Linked DNA regions of Homo sapiens: region 1 is linked to region 2. The links come from fine-mapping of genetic effects on gene expression. Tissue or cell type: whole blood. Region 2 holds a variant in brackets; the other region holds the start of a gene. All regions are shown on one strand. Distances are from middle to middle.

Region 1 (8,104 bases), 34 kb after region 2:
CCAAGAACCCACCAATTCCAGACACAAAACCTCGTCTCTACTAAAAATACAAAAAATGAGCTAGGTGCAGTAGTGGATGCCTGTAATCCTAGCTATTCGGGAGGCTGAGCCATGAGAATCATTTGAACTTGGGAGGTGGAGGTTGCAGTGAGCCGAGATCATGCCATTGCACTCTAGCCTGGGCAACAGAGAGAGACTTCGTCTCAAAAAAAAAAAAAAAAAAAAAAAAAAAAAAAAAAAAAAAAAAAAAACTTTCTCTGCTCTAAGACCTCCCATAATGTCTTCTAGAACTTTTATGCTTTCATCTTTTATATTTAATCTTTCATCTACTTGGAATATTTTGGTGTTAGGTGTAAGAAGTAAGCAGGGATCCAGCTTTTTTTTCCAGAGGGCTAATCACTGGTCCCAATCACTTCTTGAATTACTGAGTTTTAAAATCTAGAATGAAGGTCAGATTTTGTCAATGACCTATTAAGCCTCTGTGAATATAAGTTTTTCTCTTTTAAACTCTTAATATTCATTTTATTAATTGATTTCTTAATAGTGAATCATCCTTATACTTCTGGAATAAACCTTGCTTATTTACAGTGTGTTATTCTTTTCACATGCTACAGGATACTTCAGTTATTTTTTTTGCTTCTTTTTTGGAGACATTCTCTCACTCTGTTACCCAGGCTGGAGTATAGTGGCATGATAAGAGCTCATTGCAGCTTCAAACTCCTGGGCTCAAGTGATCCTGCCTCAGTCTCCCGAGTAGCTGGGACTACAAGTGTGCATCATTACGCCCAGTTTTTTTAAAAAAATGTTTGTGCAGATGCGGGTCTCACTATATTGCCCAGGCTGGTCTCAAACTCCTAGGCTTAAGCAGTTTGGGAGGCCCACCTCAGCCTCCCAAAGTGATGGCGTGTCCGAAATTGGTGGGTTCTTGGTCTCACTGACTTCAAGAATGAAGCTGCACACCCTCGCGGTGAGTGTTACAGCTCTTAAGGCGGCGCGTCTGGAGTCTGTCCCTTCTGATGTTCAGATGTGTTCGGAGTTTCTTCCTTCTGGTGGGTTCGTGGTCTCACTGGCTCAGGAGTGAAGCTGCAGACCTTCGCGGTGAGTGTTACAGCTCTTAAGGCAGCGTGTCCGGAGTTGTTCGTTCCTCCCGGTGGGCTCGTGGTCTCGCTGGGCTCAGGAGTGAAGCTGCAGATCTTCGTGATAAGTGTTACAGCTCATAAAAGCAGCGTGGACCCAAAGAGTGAGCAGTAGCAAGATTTATTGCAAAGAGCGAAAGAACAAAGCTTCCACAGCGTGGAATGGGACCCGAGCAGGTTGCCAATGCTGGTTTGGGCAGCCTGCTTTTATTCTCTTATCTGGCCCCACCCACATCCTGCTGATTGGTAGAGCCCAGTGGCCTGTTTTGTCAGGGTGCTGATTGGTGCGTTTACAATCCCTGAGCTAGATACAAAGGTTCTCCACGTCCCCATCAGATTAGTTAGATACAGAGTTTCGACACACAGGTTCTCCAAGGCCCCACCAGAGCAGCTAGATACAGAGTGTCGATTGGTGCATTCACAAACCTTGAGCTAAACACAGGGTGCTGACTGGTGTATTTACAATCCCTGAGCTAGATATAAAGACTCTCCACGTCCCCACCAGACTCAGGAGCCCAGCTGGCTTCACCTAGTGGATCCCGCACCGGGGCTGCAGGTGGAGCTGCCTGCCAGTCCTGCGCCGCCGTGCGCTCGCATTCCTCAGCTCTTGGGTGGTCGATGGGACTGGGCGCCGTGGAGCAGGGGGTGGCGCTCATCGGGGAGGCTTGGGCCGCACAGGAGCCCATGGAGTGGGTGGGAGGTTCAGGCATGGCGGGCTGCAGGTCCCGAGCCCTGCCCCGTGGGAAGGCAGCCAAGGCCCGGCGAGAAATCGAGCGCAGCGCCGGTGGGCCAGCACTGCTGGGGGACTCAGTACACCCTCCGCAGCCACTGGCCCGGGTGCTAAGTCCCCCATTGCCCGGGGTCAGCAGGGCTGGCTGGCTGTTCCGAGTGCGGGGCCCACCAAGCCCACGCCCACCCGGAACTCCAGCTGGCCCGCAAGTGCCGCACACAGCCCCAGTTCCCGCTCGTGTCTCTCCCTCCACACCTCCCTGCAAGCTGAGGGAGTGGGCTCCGGCCTTGGCCAGCCCAGAAAGGGGCTCCCACAGTGCAGTGGGGGACTGAAGGGCTCCTCAAATGCCACCAAAGTGGGAGCCCAGGCAGGGGAGGTGCCGAGAGCAAGCGAGGGTTCTGAGGACTGCCAGCACGCTGTCACATCTCAATGGGGGGTTACAAGACATGAGCCACAGCACCCAGCGTAGTTAATATTTTATTTAGAATTTTTCCACTGATACTTACATGTGAAATTGGTCTGTCGTGTGTGTGTGCGTGATATCTTTGTTGATTTTGGTATCAAAGTTATGTTTACTTTTTAAAAAGAGTTTGGAAGACTTCCATCTTTTTTGTGCTCTGGGACAGAATTAATAGCATTTGAGTCAATTACTCATTTGTGTGGAATTTTCTTGCAAGACATGGAGGGCTTTTGTAACTTTTAGGGGTGAAGGTGAAGGTGAAAGTGGGCCATGGTGGTAGCAAGGATAGTTCTTTGATAAACTTCTCTATTTTTTCTGTGGTAACGGTTTGCTTAAATTTTGTCTCTTCCAGGATCTATTTTGATAAATTGTATTTTCTTGTAACATCATCCATTTCATCCAGAGTTTTAAGTTCACTTGAAGTTAAGCAAAATTAGCATCTTACAAATCTATAATTTGTTTCCTGTGTCTGTGATTTTCCCCTGCTTGTTTTTTAAATCATGTCAAATGTGCATTTTTCTCTATTTCTGATTAGATAACTATTTTATTTTTTGTGAACCTGTGGGTTTATTAGTCCTTTGACACTGGTTTCCTGAATTCATTTATTTATTCCTTTATCTTCCCTAATTTCTCCCTCCTGCTTTCCTCATGAAGCATCTACATGTAGTGTTTACAGTTTCTTTATTCTCTAGATGTTCCTCAGTTTGCTCTTTGACTTCCTCTTTTTCCCAATAGTCAGTTAGAATACCTGTTTTAAGCTCAGGTGGTTTAAAGATTTTCACTTTAGCTTATTTATTTTTTCATCCCTGAGAGCACTAGAGAATTGTGTATCCTGCTGTCCATCCGCATTTGGCTTCTTCCCCAGGGTTCTTCTCCCAGAAGGTGACGAGAGCGAAGAAACCCCACGGGATGCAGGAAGAAACAGTGACAGGCAACCAAGAGGGGGAGGATGGAGAAAACCCTTGCCTTAGTCAGAGCAGGCCCCAGGGGACGCAGAAACAAAGGCCACACCCCCACGAGCACGTGGCCAGACTGCCCAATCGTCGCTACTGAAGCCGGGCTCTGGTCTTTGATTGGTGTTCGTGGAGACGCCCTCACATTCTTGGATCAGCCCAAAGGTAGGCTCAGGCTCCGACGGTGGCCGGCGGGGGTCACGAGGCTTCGTAGTGGAGGAACGGGTTTGGCGTGTGGGACGCAGCTGCCTCTGTACTGGGGAGTCACGGAGTGGCCGGGCTCCAGGGACATGGCGGCGGCCTCTGCGGTGTCGGTGCTGCTGGTGGCGGCGGAGAGGAACCGGTGGCATCGTCTCCCGAGCCTGCTCCTGCCGCCGAGGTGGGTGGAGGGGCCATGGCTCAGTGGGCAGAGGCGGGAGCGAGGGGTGCACGGACCCGCGTGAGCGGTGGGAGGTGCGGCGGAACCCAGGGTCGGTGTGGGGAGGACGGTAGGAAAACCCCAGGCACTTTCGGAGGGGTTCTGCCGGCAGTCACGGCGTCGGGAGGAAGACATCCCCACCAGCCCTTCCCTTTCTCCCCGCTTCCGCACATCCACGCTTCAGCGCGCCTTTGGCTTCTGTTTTTCCATTTCTGAGGACTGGGCCCGCCATCCTCCAGGCTCCCCTCGCCGTCGCTGCAGCTCGTAGCCGTTTACATCGGGCTTTCGCAGCACCCCTTAGGTGGGAGCGTTGTTATAATCCGGTTCCGGGGAAGCCCAAAGGGATCAACGACTTCCTCAACGAAACACAGCTAGTAAGAAATGGGGCCGGGATGCCCTCAAAGCCATTTTTCAGTTCAGCTGTGCCCCATCAGGTGTCCAGTTCAGAGAAAGACTCCTGGAGTTCCTTCTCATTGTTAGAAGAGTGAAGTTGTCAAGAAGAGCAAATGTACCTTCCACAGAGCTGGGAAATTATTTTGTCAAAAACTCTTGTACCCAAGTTTGAACAACGCTATCAGATGACTCAGTCTAGCTCACCTGACTCCAGCTCTGTTTCAAATTTTGAGCTCTAAGCTTTGGTGGCAATAACTCTGGCAGTGAAAAAACCCTCAGGCTTGTAGATAGCTTTGCTTCTTTGTCTTCTTTTGCTTCATCGTTATCATCCTTCATCATTCTGGAAAGATTGACAGTTTAGTGTTCAAGGGCACAGACTCTGCAGTCAAGGCTGAGGTCTTAGTTAGCTACTCACTAGGTGTGTGACTTTGGGTAAGTTACTTAATATTTCTTCTTTAATTTCCTCACCTTGGAGATGATACGAGTACCTTGGGTTGTGAAAACTAAATGAATTAATTCATGGAATGAGGTTTAAGCACAATCTGGTACATAAGATCAGTCTATAAATGCAAACTCAACCATTTATATGAACGTTTGCTTGCTTTTATTTTCCAGAAATATTGTAGATGCCCTTTTTAGTTACTTAATTGTAGGAGTGCCCCAGAGAAACATAAGAAAGTTGTTGGAAGTTGGCGGGGCGCGGTAGCTCACGCCTGTAATCGCAGCACTTTGGGACGCCGAGGCGGGCAGATCACGAGGTCAGGAGATCGAGACCAACCTGGATAACACGGTGAAACCCCGTCTGTACTAAAAAATACAAAAAATTTAGCCGGGCGTGGTGACACGCGCCTATAGTCCCGCCTGTTAGTCCCAGCTACTCGGGAGGCTGAGGCAGGAGAATGGTGTGAACCCAGGAGGCGGAGCTTGCAGTGAGCTAAGATCACGCCACTGCACTCCAGCCTGGGCGACAGAGTAAGACTCCGTCTCAAATAAAAAATAAAAAAATAAAAAAAAAAGTTGGTGTAAGTAATGTTAATGTTCTTCTTGTTCTTCTGGTTTTTCTTTTCTTAGGCCTCCAGGGCTCTTCAGGATAGTACCATAGACCCATTTCCTGTCTTCCCTTTCAAAGCTTAGCTATTGTCTAAAGAACTATCCTCAAGTATGTCACTCTGGAGAGTGTTAGAGTTGTTAATGGCTTATAGAAGTAAAACTCTTTGCCAGGAGACTTGGTTCATGCCTGTATTTTCAGCAGTTTCTCAGCACTGTGGGATCCAAGGTGGGAGGATTGCTTGAGTTCAAGAGTTCAAGACCAGCCTGGGCAACACAGTGAGGCTTCATCTCTACAAAACATTAAAAAATTAGCCAGGCGTAGTGGCACACACTTGTAGTCACAGCTACTTGGGAGGATGAGGAGGGCGAGGACGGCCTGAGTCCAGGGGTTCCAGGCCGTAGTGAGCCATGATCACACCACTGTACTCCATCCTGGGTGACATCCCATCTCAAATAAAACAAAAACAAAAAAATCTTAACAGCACAGATAGTTTACATTATTTTTATGTTATGAATCTTTAGTAGCTCACAGAAAATAATCTCTGGTGGCAGAATTATAGACATGACAATAAGCTGGTATAGAGCTACCTTGAATCAGGGAAGCAGCTTCTTTTTTTTTTTTTGAGACGGAGTCTCGCTCTGTCGCCCAGGCCGGACTGCGGACTGCAGTGGCGCAATCTCGGCTCACTGCAAGCTCCGGGGAAGCAGCTTCTTAATCTTGTTTAAGCCATTGCTTTTAAGTTGCAGCTTAGATAATTGTGAAAAATGGAATAGATGATCAGAACATTGTTGGGATAGTGGATTACAGTTAAGTGGGATCTCTGTCTCTTTCTCCCTCTTTTTCCCTCTCTCCCTTCTTCTGTCTTCACTAGAAGATTGCAAAAGAAAGCTTTAGGTCAACAGTAGCCTTGAAACCGAATCAGTCTTAAGCTAGCTTTACCAACAAGCAACCATTTAATAGATACATCTGCCCAGAATAGGCCTTGAAACTTATCAGAAGCCTATCTGAAGAATGTAAAGGGAAGACGATGCTATGAGCTAGAAAATACCTCATAAAGATCAGGAAAGATGATCCCCCTCCTTCAGGATCAAGAAGGTAACATCAGCTGAAATGGAAAGGTGTGGGAAAGCAGCAGCCTCGTGAGGAAGCTAGCTCACGGAACTCTCCTGCCAAAGCTGTGGGTCTTCCCAGCAGCTCCTCATGGATGGCAGCATCTGAGTGTGCATTGTAGGGCAATGAGTGTATAGACGCATATAGATGTGTAGATGTCTACTGCATCTCCGCTCCAGTGAAATACTAGTCCTGCTCAACTACATAGTCATATACATAATATGTATATACTACTGCCTAGTTACATAGTTTCTAATGCACACGCTGTGCTTTTATCTTGTGCTTTGTGAATAATCTAAAATGGTTAGTTAGTCCTTTATAACCACATCTTCCAGGTATAGACAAAAAGATAGGTGGAATTGCTTCTGTAATTTGTTTGTTTCCCTGCATATGCTTTTTATTTATTTATTTATTTTTTTTTTTGAGATGGAGTCTCACTCTGTCACCCAGGCTGGAATGTAGTGGCACGATCTTGGCTCACTGCAACCTCCACCTCCCAAGTTCAAGTGATACTCCTGCCTCAGCCTCCCAAGTAGCTGAGATTACAGGTGCGCACCACCACACCTGGCTAATTTTTGTATTGTTAGTAGAGATGGGGTTTCACCATGTTGGCCAGGCTGGTCTCGAACTCCTGACCTCAGGTAATCCCCCCACCTCAGCCTCTCAAATTGCTAGGATTACAGGCGTGAGCCACTGCACCCAGCCCACTTATCCTCTTTAGCTGAAACTTAATAGACGTTATACTTTTTTGTTCCTAAAGTGAATCTGGCCTGTTTTCTGTCAGCTCTTGGTTACTTTATTTTATACACAGGTATCACGAAACTTAAAAATTGTTGAGACTTCTACCTCATTAAAATACCTCAAGTCATTTTGTCTCCCCATTTCTCCATTTTTTTAAATACAAGGACTTGGAATAGAATTGTATAGTACTTTTAAATCTGAGAGGTACCTTCAAGATCACCTCTTATAGTCTCATCTCGTGTGTGAGAACACTGAAGCCCAAGCTATTAAATCTTGCATCCTCAACTGGGATGATACCACCGCTAAAGGGTGGAAATTGATTCTTAGGAGAGCCAGGAAATCTTAGATTTTGTCATGGTTTACGGCTTTCCAAAGCTCAACCTTACCCCACCCTTCCTACAAGGAATAAAATCTTTTAAAAGTTTTCTCATTAGGAGAGTAATAATGAAAAAAAAGTTGGAGAAACACTGATGTAAAGTGACTCGACCCTGGGCAAGCTGGTCATTGGAGGGACTCGGATGAGAATGCAGCTTTTCTGGTCCCACAGCCAACATTCTTTCTGTTGCCCCTGTTTAACTTCCGTTTATTTCTCTGGTCTTACTTTTTAAACATGTCTCATGTTTAAACTTGATTGGTATTTTTCAAACTGTAGATTGACCAGCATATTTTAATAAAATAGGATACAACTGAAAGAACCAAAAGAGTTTTGTTCTTTTTGTTTTTGTTTTTTTTTTTGAGACGGAGTCTCGCTCTGTCACCCAGGCTGGAGTGCAGTGGCCCAGTCTCGGCTCACTGCAAGCTCTGCCTCCTGGGTTCACGCCATTCTCCTGCCTCAGCCTCCCGAGTAGCTGGGACTACAGGTGCCCGCCATGACGCCCGGCTAATTTTTTGTGTTTTCAGTAGAGACAGGGTTTCACCGTGTTAGCCAGGATGGCCTCAATCTCCTGACCTCATGATCTGCTTGCCTCGGCTTCCCAAAGTGCTGGGATTACAGGTGTGAGCCACCGTGCCTGGCCAGGGCAGAATGAGTCATTTTTAACAAAACATCTGTTTTCATTAAGTGTGTGTCCTGGGTAGTTTGTATTGTGAGTTGTAGCCAAAAAGGTTTCAAA
Region 2 (8,104 bases):
GAGTGCAGTGGCACGATCTCACCTTACTGCAACCTCCACCCCTCGGATTCAAGAGATTCTCCTGCCTCAGCCTCCCTGAGTAGCTGGGATTGCATGTGCCCACCTCCATGCCTGGCTAATTTTTGTATTTTTAGTAGAGGCAGGGTTTCACCACATTGGCCAGGCTGGTCTCAAACTCCAGACCTCAAGTGATCTGCCTGCCTCAGCCTCCCAAAGTGCTGGGATTACAGGCATGAACCACCAACCACCATGCCCGGCCTACTTATTTATTTATTTATTTTAGAGACATTCTTGCTCTGTGTCCCAGGCTGGAGTGTGGTGGCATGATCATAGCTCACTGCAACCTCGAACTCCTGGGCTCAAATGATCCTCCCACCTCAGCCTCCCAAGTACTTGGGACCACAGGTGTGTGCCACCATGCCTGGCCTCAATGATTAAAATGTTTAACTTCATCTGCCTGGAAGCCTCCACTTCCTTGAACAGGGTGTACCTTTCATAAGAGAGGGCCAGTCCTTAGGCAGGTTTCTCTCCCCAGGTGGCGATCAGAAGGGAAGAGATGGGCTTCTCCCTTCTCTCTGTTTCTGTGGATGGATGCAACAACCCCTCCTAATGAGTTGTTTTTTTTTTTTTTTTTCTGAAACGGAGTTTCACTGTTGTTGCCCAGGCTGGAGTGCAATGGCACAATCTCGGCTCAACACAACCTCCACCTCCTGGGTTCAAGCGATTCTCCTGCCTCAGCCTCCCGAGTAGCTGGGATTACAGGCATGTGCCACCGCGCCCAGCTAATTTTGTATTCTTAGTAGAGATGGGGTTTCTCCATGTTGGTCAGGCTGGTCTCGAACTCCCGACCTCAGGTGATCTGACCGCCTCGGCCTCCCAAAGTGCTGGGATTACAGGCGTGAGCCACCGCGCCTGGCCCCTAATGAGTTCTTGACCCTGCTCATCTAATACATTCAGCCTGGTGATAAGCATTTGCTGACTGCATGTCCCTTCACTGATTCATTAAGGGTTCTGTGACTTTCTAAGTCTCAGAAAGCAATCTTCTTTTATCTCTAAAATTTTGGAGGCGCCTCTCTGTAGCCCCCAAGTACTGACTAGTTCCCACCCACTCTGTCCCCAATGATTTAAAGTAACCAAAGAACACATTCTCAAAAGTTCTCATTTCATTATTTGCGCATTCCAGTTTATGTGAGGTGTCTCCCTTATACCCCAAACAGAGCAGCTGAAAAAGTCTCCAAACCGCACCAGGGTGTTTTTTCATGGGGAGAAGGTGGCAGAACCCCCAGAAAGCCCCTCGGAAGGAAGGAAGGCCATTTAGCTGTGCACAGGCAGCCCGGCCACAGCTGGAGCTCAGCGGTTACATCTCAGGACTCTTATGCATCTATCTGTCACCTTTTCAGAGACAATTTACCAAGGAATCAAACATGCGGTGGTGATGTTCCAGACAGCAGTCGGGCATTCCTTCAAGTGCGTGAGTGAACAGAGCCTCCAGTTGTCAGCCCACCTGCAGGTGAAAACAACCGATGTCCAACTTCAAGCCTTTGATTTTGAAGATGACCACTTTGGAAATGGTAAGTTAAGGGTCGATCAGGTTGCAAACATACACTTTAGAGACCCCAGGGTAGATCCAAAGTGTTTTCTGTCTGCAGCTGTCGAAGGAGCAAGCATCTCATGAGCTTCCTGGGATGGTGTGATTCCACATAGCTCACAGGGCCAGGCTCCTCTGGCCACCTCAGAATCAGGCACCTGCACCCACCCAGTCACGGCTGTCCCGCAGCGGGTTGCACTCTCTTCGACTCACGCACATTCTTACTCATTTAAACACTCACGCGCTCAATCAAAACAACAGAAATACCACCTGCGACTTCCCTTTATGTCCTGTTGGGTGTAAATTCAGATATGTTTGGAGAACACTTTAAAGATCCTGAGTATCAGTAATGTCTGAAATCAAGATTTCAGAATAGTTTCTTCCCCACCTGCAGAGGGAAAAGAGCAAGATGCAGCAATTCAAAATAGAAGGAAACTCTGTTGGACCCCCTCATCTCAATTACAAGCTGTTGGAGCCCCTCGTCTCCAGTTATAAGCTGTCACACCCAACAGTGTTTCCTCATAGTCAGTTTTAGTTTCCCTCTAACTTCTGCCTTGAGTTCTGACCATCACAGGCAGAGCTTGCCTGATGACTGCCCTGGAGGAAAACAGGTCCCTGGGCAAGGGCCAAGAGCAGACCAGGGTGACTTTCCAGAAAAGCCCTCTTCTCCCTTCCAGGAACACATTGTTATAAGGATTTCTGCCTATGACCAGGAGAGTCATATGCCAGAAAAAGCCCTCTTCTCCCTTCCAGGAAAACAGTGTTACGAGGATTTCTACATATGACCAGGAGGGTCATGTACTTCAATTTCTAAAACATCCCTCTCATAATAACTAAAAAATGTGATGAGTACTTCCCAGTTATCAAAAATAGATTTAGCTAGAAGTTTAGCCGTATTTTAAATGTCTACAATATGAATCTGATTTTGCTTTGGGTTCCATCATGAAATTGCAGATGTGTGTAGCAGAAAACTTCTCCTCATGTACTCAGTGGGAAGCATTTGGCAGAGGAAGGACTGGCCATTGCTTGCCTTGGGTCCCCTGGTTTCTGTAGGCTTTGTCGGAGTCCCACAGTCATATGAGAATTTGCCAGTAGAGGTTGGCCCCATTTGTCATCCACTCTCAAAAATGCTAGTGTTGGAAAACTATTTCTTTCTTTTACAATCATTATGAAGGTTTGAAAAACTTCTGTAATCGTGTGATCTTAAAAAAAGGTACACACTTGCTCTTCTTCCCCTTCAGAACCTCTATGAAGCAGGAAGTGATCAGGTCTGGGAAACTTCTTAGTGGCAGAGGTAGGAAATAAAACGTTTCAGCAGTGCACGCCAGTGTTCACAGGGATGCATAGAAAAGCTCGCTTGTCTTTACATTTTTTTTTTTCTTAAAACCATCATTAACTGGATAGTTTTCCAAACAACAGACTTCAGAGTTCTCCTTAACTCCTCTCCCTCCAGCACCCTCTCATACAAATAGTCACAAAGCCCTAACAATTCCACTTCCAAAATGTTCCCCTTGTTCTCCCACTGTCACCGTATCAACTCAACGCCATCTTCTTAGTCTTTGCACTTCAAATTTCACTAAAGATGCTCAAATGTGAAGAGGTATGTCATTCTGTAAATAGGATTTTCTACTAGAGAGTAAGAGAAGGGGGAAAAGAGGAGCAAGTTACCATACTATATGGTGTTTAAAAGACACATGTGCAAAGGGTTATGGGAGCCCAGAGGAAGTTGTGACTGACAGCATTGGTGATGAGAGGGTGGACTAAAGAAGTCTTGAGTGATAGGCGATTTTTAAACAGGGGATCGAAGAACTGGAGAGGAATCCAGCAAGTGTCAAAGCTGAGCCTTGTAAAAGATAATGGTCATCCCAAACAGTAGACTCCTGACTCCTAAAATCTCCTCCTCCCTAAAATCCTGGAGCCTGCAAACATTGTGTTTTGTTTATTGAGTTTTAGGGTTTTTGCTGTCCTTTTCTTTTGCTGTTTATTATGCTGATTTAGGAGCCCCAAGCTATCTGAGCAGCCCCTGTAAGAAACACAGAGTTAGGACTGGGCGTGTTGGCTGACTCCTGTAATCCCAGCACTTTGGGAGGCCAAGGCAGGTGGATCACTTGAGGCCAGGACTATGAGACCAGCCTGGCCAACATAGCAAAACCCCATCTCTACTAAACATACAAAAAACTAGCCCGGCATGGTGGTACATGCCTGTAATCCCAGCTACTCGGGAGGCTGAGGGATAAAAATCACTTGAAATCAGGAGGCGGAGGTTGCAGTGAGCCGAGATTGTGTCACTGCATTCTGGCCTGGGTGACACAGTGAGACTCTGTCTCAAACTATTACTAGAGTTGGAGAATATGGCTCCGGGAATTACTCTAGTTTGAGAGTCAAGACATAACTCTGATCACAACCCTCTAGGCCAAACTAGCATTTTCT[C/T]AAAGTTGGATCTGCCTGGAAGCAGCATCAGAATTCCCCTGGCCTCAGCTCAGACCCACTGAATTATCATTTCTTGGGCATGTGTCTGGGCATCTGCAATTTAATAAGCTCCCTAACTAATTACCAGTGCTACACGTGTCAGATCCACTGTATTGACCCTTTCCCTCTCGTTTTCACCCACTGTTGTCTGAGCCCCAACAGCTCCATCTTCCCCTCTGTCTTCTTTTCTCCAAAGCTGAGGCAGATGTGGCAGTGCCACTTCCCAGCATTTGTGGCCAGTCTGTAACACTTGTTACTCTGACTTCAATTACAGCGGATGAATGCTTCAGTGACAGAAACAGGAGAGAAATCCCTGTGGCCATGGGCCTGAGTATCACAGGACTGCTTGTCATTTTGCTAACCGCATGTCTGGTGGCCAGAAAGAGGCCCAGTAGAGGATATGAACGCATGTAAAGCCCCACTTTCTTCAAAATGTGCAAAGTTAAGGTCTTGGGAATTCCAGCATCATATTCAGCCTGAAGTGAAAGGATTGACCTGTCTCGTTGCCTGTTGCACCCTCCTGAGCTGATTAGGAAACCTAACTTTCCACCAAAGGGCTACCGCAGTGCTGGGAAACAGCACCTCCCCTACTTCCTCCTGTTGCTTTGGGGAGGCCATGCCAGGTGTGCTTGATGCCCTCTGCCATACCTGAATATACCAGTGCTGGCTTCCGGAATTAGGGGCAATAGGCAGAGACATGAGTGGGGTGCTTGTGAGAAGGGAGAAAGCGAAAACCCGGAGGGAGAATTGTGGGGAAGACGTTTACAAATTGACTGATTTTTCTTATACATTTTCAAGAGTCCTGATTTTCAGTTTTTAAAAACATTACTTTAAAAAAACCAATGCATTTCAAAGTTGATTACAAAATGATTTTAAACTCCTGGATTTTACCCAAATTTTGTTTACTTAAATTATAGATGATCTTAATATGCTATTATTTTAAAAAAACATATCCTACTCTATTGTAATGTATTATCAGTTTAAAAAATTAGGAAACTGCCTATTTCACTTTTTTAATTTAAAGCACATATCAAAGATCATGGCAAAAAAGGAGGGGCTCAATAAATGTTAGCCCTTCAGTTGCTTCAATTTCATGTGTTGTCTGCCTTCTTAGCTACTTTTTTCCGGGTTTGTCGGCTTTTCTTTGATGTTATTTTATTCTTGTAAATGTGTCCATTTGGACCATTGCAGGACAGGAGGGAGACAGAGCAGGGAGACAATATGGAATGGCAAGCAGGAAGAGGTAGACCTGCCTGGAGGATCACTCACTTCCCTTTTACGCAAACATTCACCAAAAGCAGTACATTCCTGATGGGGGACGGTTGATATCTGAGGGAAAAATTCTATTAAAATATGGCTTAGGATGTTATTCATGGTTTCCTATTACATTGATGGGGGTTTTTCATTCAGAGAAAAAGGAGAGGTATGTTCTTAATTGATTCTACTGACTGGAAGTTTTCTTGTTTTTCCAAATTTTCCAGAGGTGCCATTCATTATTTTTAACATGACATTTATGAAATTTGGCAACAACTCTAAAACTACTGCCTACTTAGGAAATGTACTGACTCTCCCAGGAGGCATTTTTGCTCTCCTTGTTTTCTTAGAATTGGGGCTGTGGGGAGGGCACACCGCAGCTTCAAAAGAGCACTAAGAGCCCCTGAAGACATCCAGAGTGTCAGAAAATGTCTGTTTCCCTCTTAAAACAGATGTTGATGACAATCTGATATGAGGACCCGGGAGTTCCCCAAAGAGACTCGGGCTTAACAGCAAGAGCTTGGCTTTGGAGAGCTGTGATCTCCTTCCACCTCCTCCTTCAAACTGGCACCTGCTCCAGGCTCCCCTGTGTCCAGTGTTAAGGGCACTCGAAAGTTCTGTAGGGCAGAGGACAAGGTGTTTATTCACCAGCCACTCACTCTTCTGCAGAATGATTAATGTAAGATTTACCTTCTAGCATGTGGAAATTTCTCCCCTAGCAGATGAAACAAGAAGCAGAATTTAAAATCAAGTATAGAGGGATATGACCACTTAAATTTAATTTTCCTCCCTACCTTCTTCAGTGAGTTCTTTTGGATGATGGCCACTGCTTGGACTCCTGCTATCTATTCCCCCGACCCCAGTACTGATTATTTTTAGAATTAATTTGAATTAGCATTCTGGTAACCACAAAAAGCAAAGGTTTCATTGGAATGGCCAGTAAATAAACGCTTGGATGTGTAATTTACTCACAGTCCTGCCCACTTTCCAGGTGGAGAGCAGAGGGGGCAGTGGAGCTGGGCTCCTCACCTGCCTCCCCTCCTAACCACACACACATTCACCCTAAGAAGCCTGTGATGAGAGGGAAAAAAATTCTGTGAACTCCTCCATTACTAAACCTGGAGGAAAAAAAAAAGAGTGGGTTGCTTTATTTTCTTCGTTTTCCAACCTAGGGTAGTGAAAATGGCTCCCAGGAAGACTGGGAAGAGTAAAGGGAGGGACAGACGGAGGTGAACTGGGGAAGAAACCCCAAAGCAGACGATCGCTCCAGGCTGCAGCTAGTTTCCATGCTACAAAAAAGAGAATAGAATCCAAATATCTAACCCAAAGGGAAACATTAACTGATCTCAGATGCAATGGAAAGAAAGACCATAATTCACCCAAACGGCATCATAGGAAATGGAGTATCTCGACTGCCACGCTCAAGCATGAGCAAGATGAAAACAAACTGCATGGCCACTGTGCCAAAATACTGCAGCAAAATAAGAATAGTTTGAAATTAAATTAAGAAAAGGAGTGAGGCCAGGCACGGTGGCTCACGCCTGTAATCCCAGCACTTTGGGAGGCCGAGGCGGGCGGATCATGAGGTCAGGAGATCGAGACCATCCTAGCTAACATAGTGAAACCCCGTTTCTACTAAAAACACAAAAAATTAGCCAGGCGTGGTGGCAGGCGCATGTAGTCCCAGCTACTCGGGAGGCTGAGGCAGGAGAATGGCGTCAACCCGGGAGGCAGAGCTTGCAGTGAGCCAAGATGGCACCACTGTACTCCAGCCTGGGTGACAGAGCGAAACTCCGTCTCAAAAAAAAAAAAAAAAAAAAAAGGAGTGAGGGTGTATTAGTTTGCTAAGACTGTCTTAGTAACATACCACAGTCTGGATGCCTTAAATAACAGAAATGTATATTCTCACAGTTCTGGAGGCTAGAAATTCAAGGTCAAGGTCTCAGCAGCATTGGTTTTTCTGAAACTTCTCTCCTTGGCTGTAGATGGCCTGTGTCTTCACGTGGTCTTCCCTCTGTACCTGTCTGTATCCATATGTCCTCTTTGTGTAAGGATACCATTCATATTGGATAGAGGCCCACCCTAATGACCTCATTTTAACTTACTGACTTCTTGAAAGACCCTGTGTCCTAATACATGTTCTGTGGTCCTGGAAGTTAGGGCTTCACCATGTAAATTTGGGGGCAGGGAGGGGATACAATTTAGTCCATAACAGAAAGTTAGAAATGAAAATAGTAAAATACAAAGAAAACATAATTCAAGGAACAGAAAGAAATTCCTGACAATTGCTTGATGCTGAGAATCACTTAATGTGAATTCCAGGTAATCAGAGTTTAAAGATAAGATGTTAAAATGAAAGAGTAAGAAAACAAGATGAGTGTCAAAGCAATACACTGCATAATGTATAGAAACAGTCAGAGGCAGAATAAATAGGGAGGAAATTATATTATTTTCATAGAGAGAATGACTGAGATCATTACAGGTAATACAGATAAACCTTATGATTAAAGCATTACAGGGAAGCTACTAGATATAGAAGCTATTCAGCCCATCCAACATAAGTATAATTGGTGCCTCTGACGTATAGACCTCAAAAATAGAATGAAGATATATTTGAAGATTTAAGGAAATTTCCTTGAGATAAATAATTGAAGTTGGGATTAAAAGAGCATGTCCCAAAAAAGAATTGATACCAAAAGTTTTACACTGGGACATATTGGAAACAAGCTATAAAACTTCAAACATGAAGAAGTCTTTAGGCCTTTATGGAAAATAAAATAAAATCAGCTATAA

What was found. PIP is the estimated chance that this variant, and not a neighbour inherited with it, causes the effect.
Region 1: MCCC1 starts here. The variant in region 2 is fine-mapped to the expression of MCCC1 in whole blood (INTERVAL, PIP 0.93).

The regions. Positions count from the first base shown.
Region 1 is chr3:183,094,906-183,103,009 of GRCh38, reverse strand. MCCC1 (methylcrotonyl-CoA carboxylase subunit 1) reads left to right here and starts at 3,514. Exons shown (of 19, transcript NM_020166.5): 1 at 3,514-3,658. The coding sequence starts at 3,570. RefSeq lists an enhancer at 3,449-3,588.
Region 2 is chr3:183,129,184-183,137,287 of GRCh38, reverse strand. It overlaps LAMP3 (lysosomal associated membrane protein 3), which reads left to right. Exons shown (of 6, transcript NM_014398.4): 5 at 1,401-1,571. Among named protein-coding and RNA genes, the nearest start is that of LAMP3, 29 kb to the left of the region's middle. The variant C/T (reference allele first, on the strand shown) is at 4,019.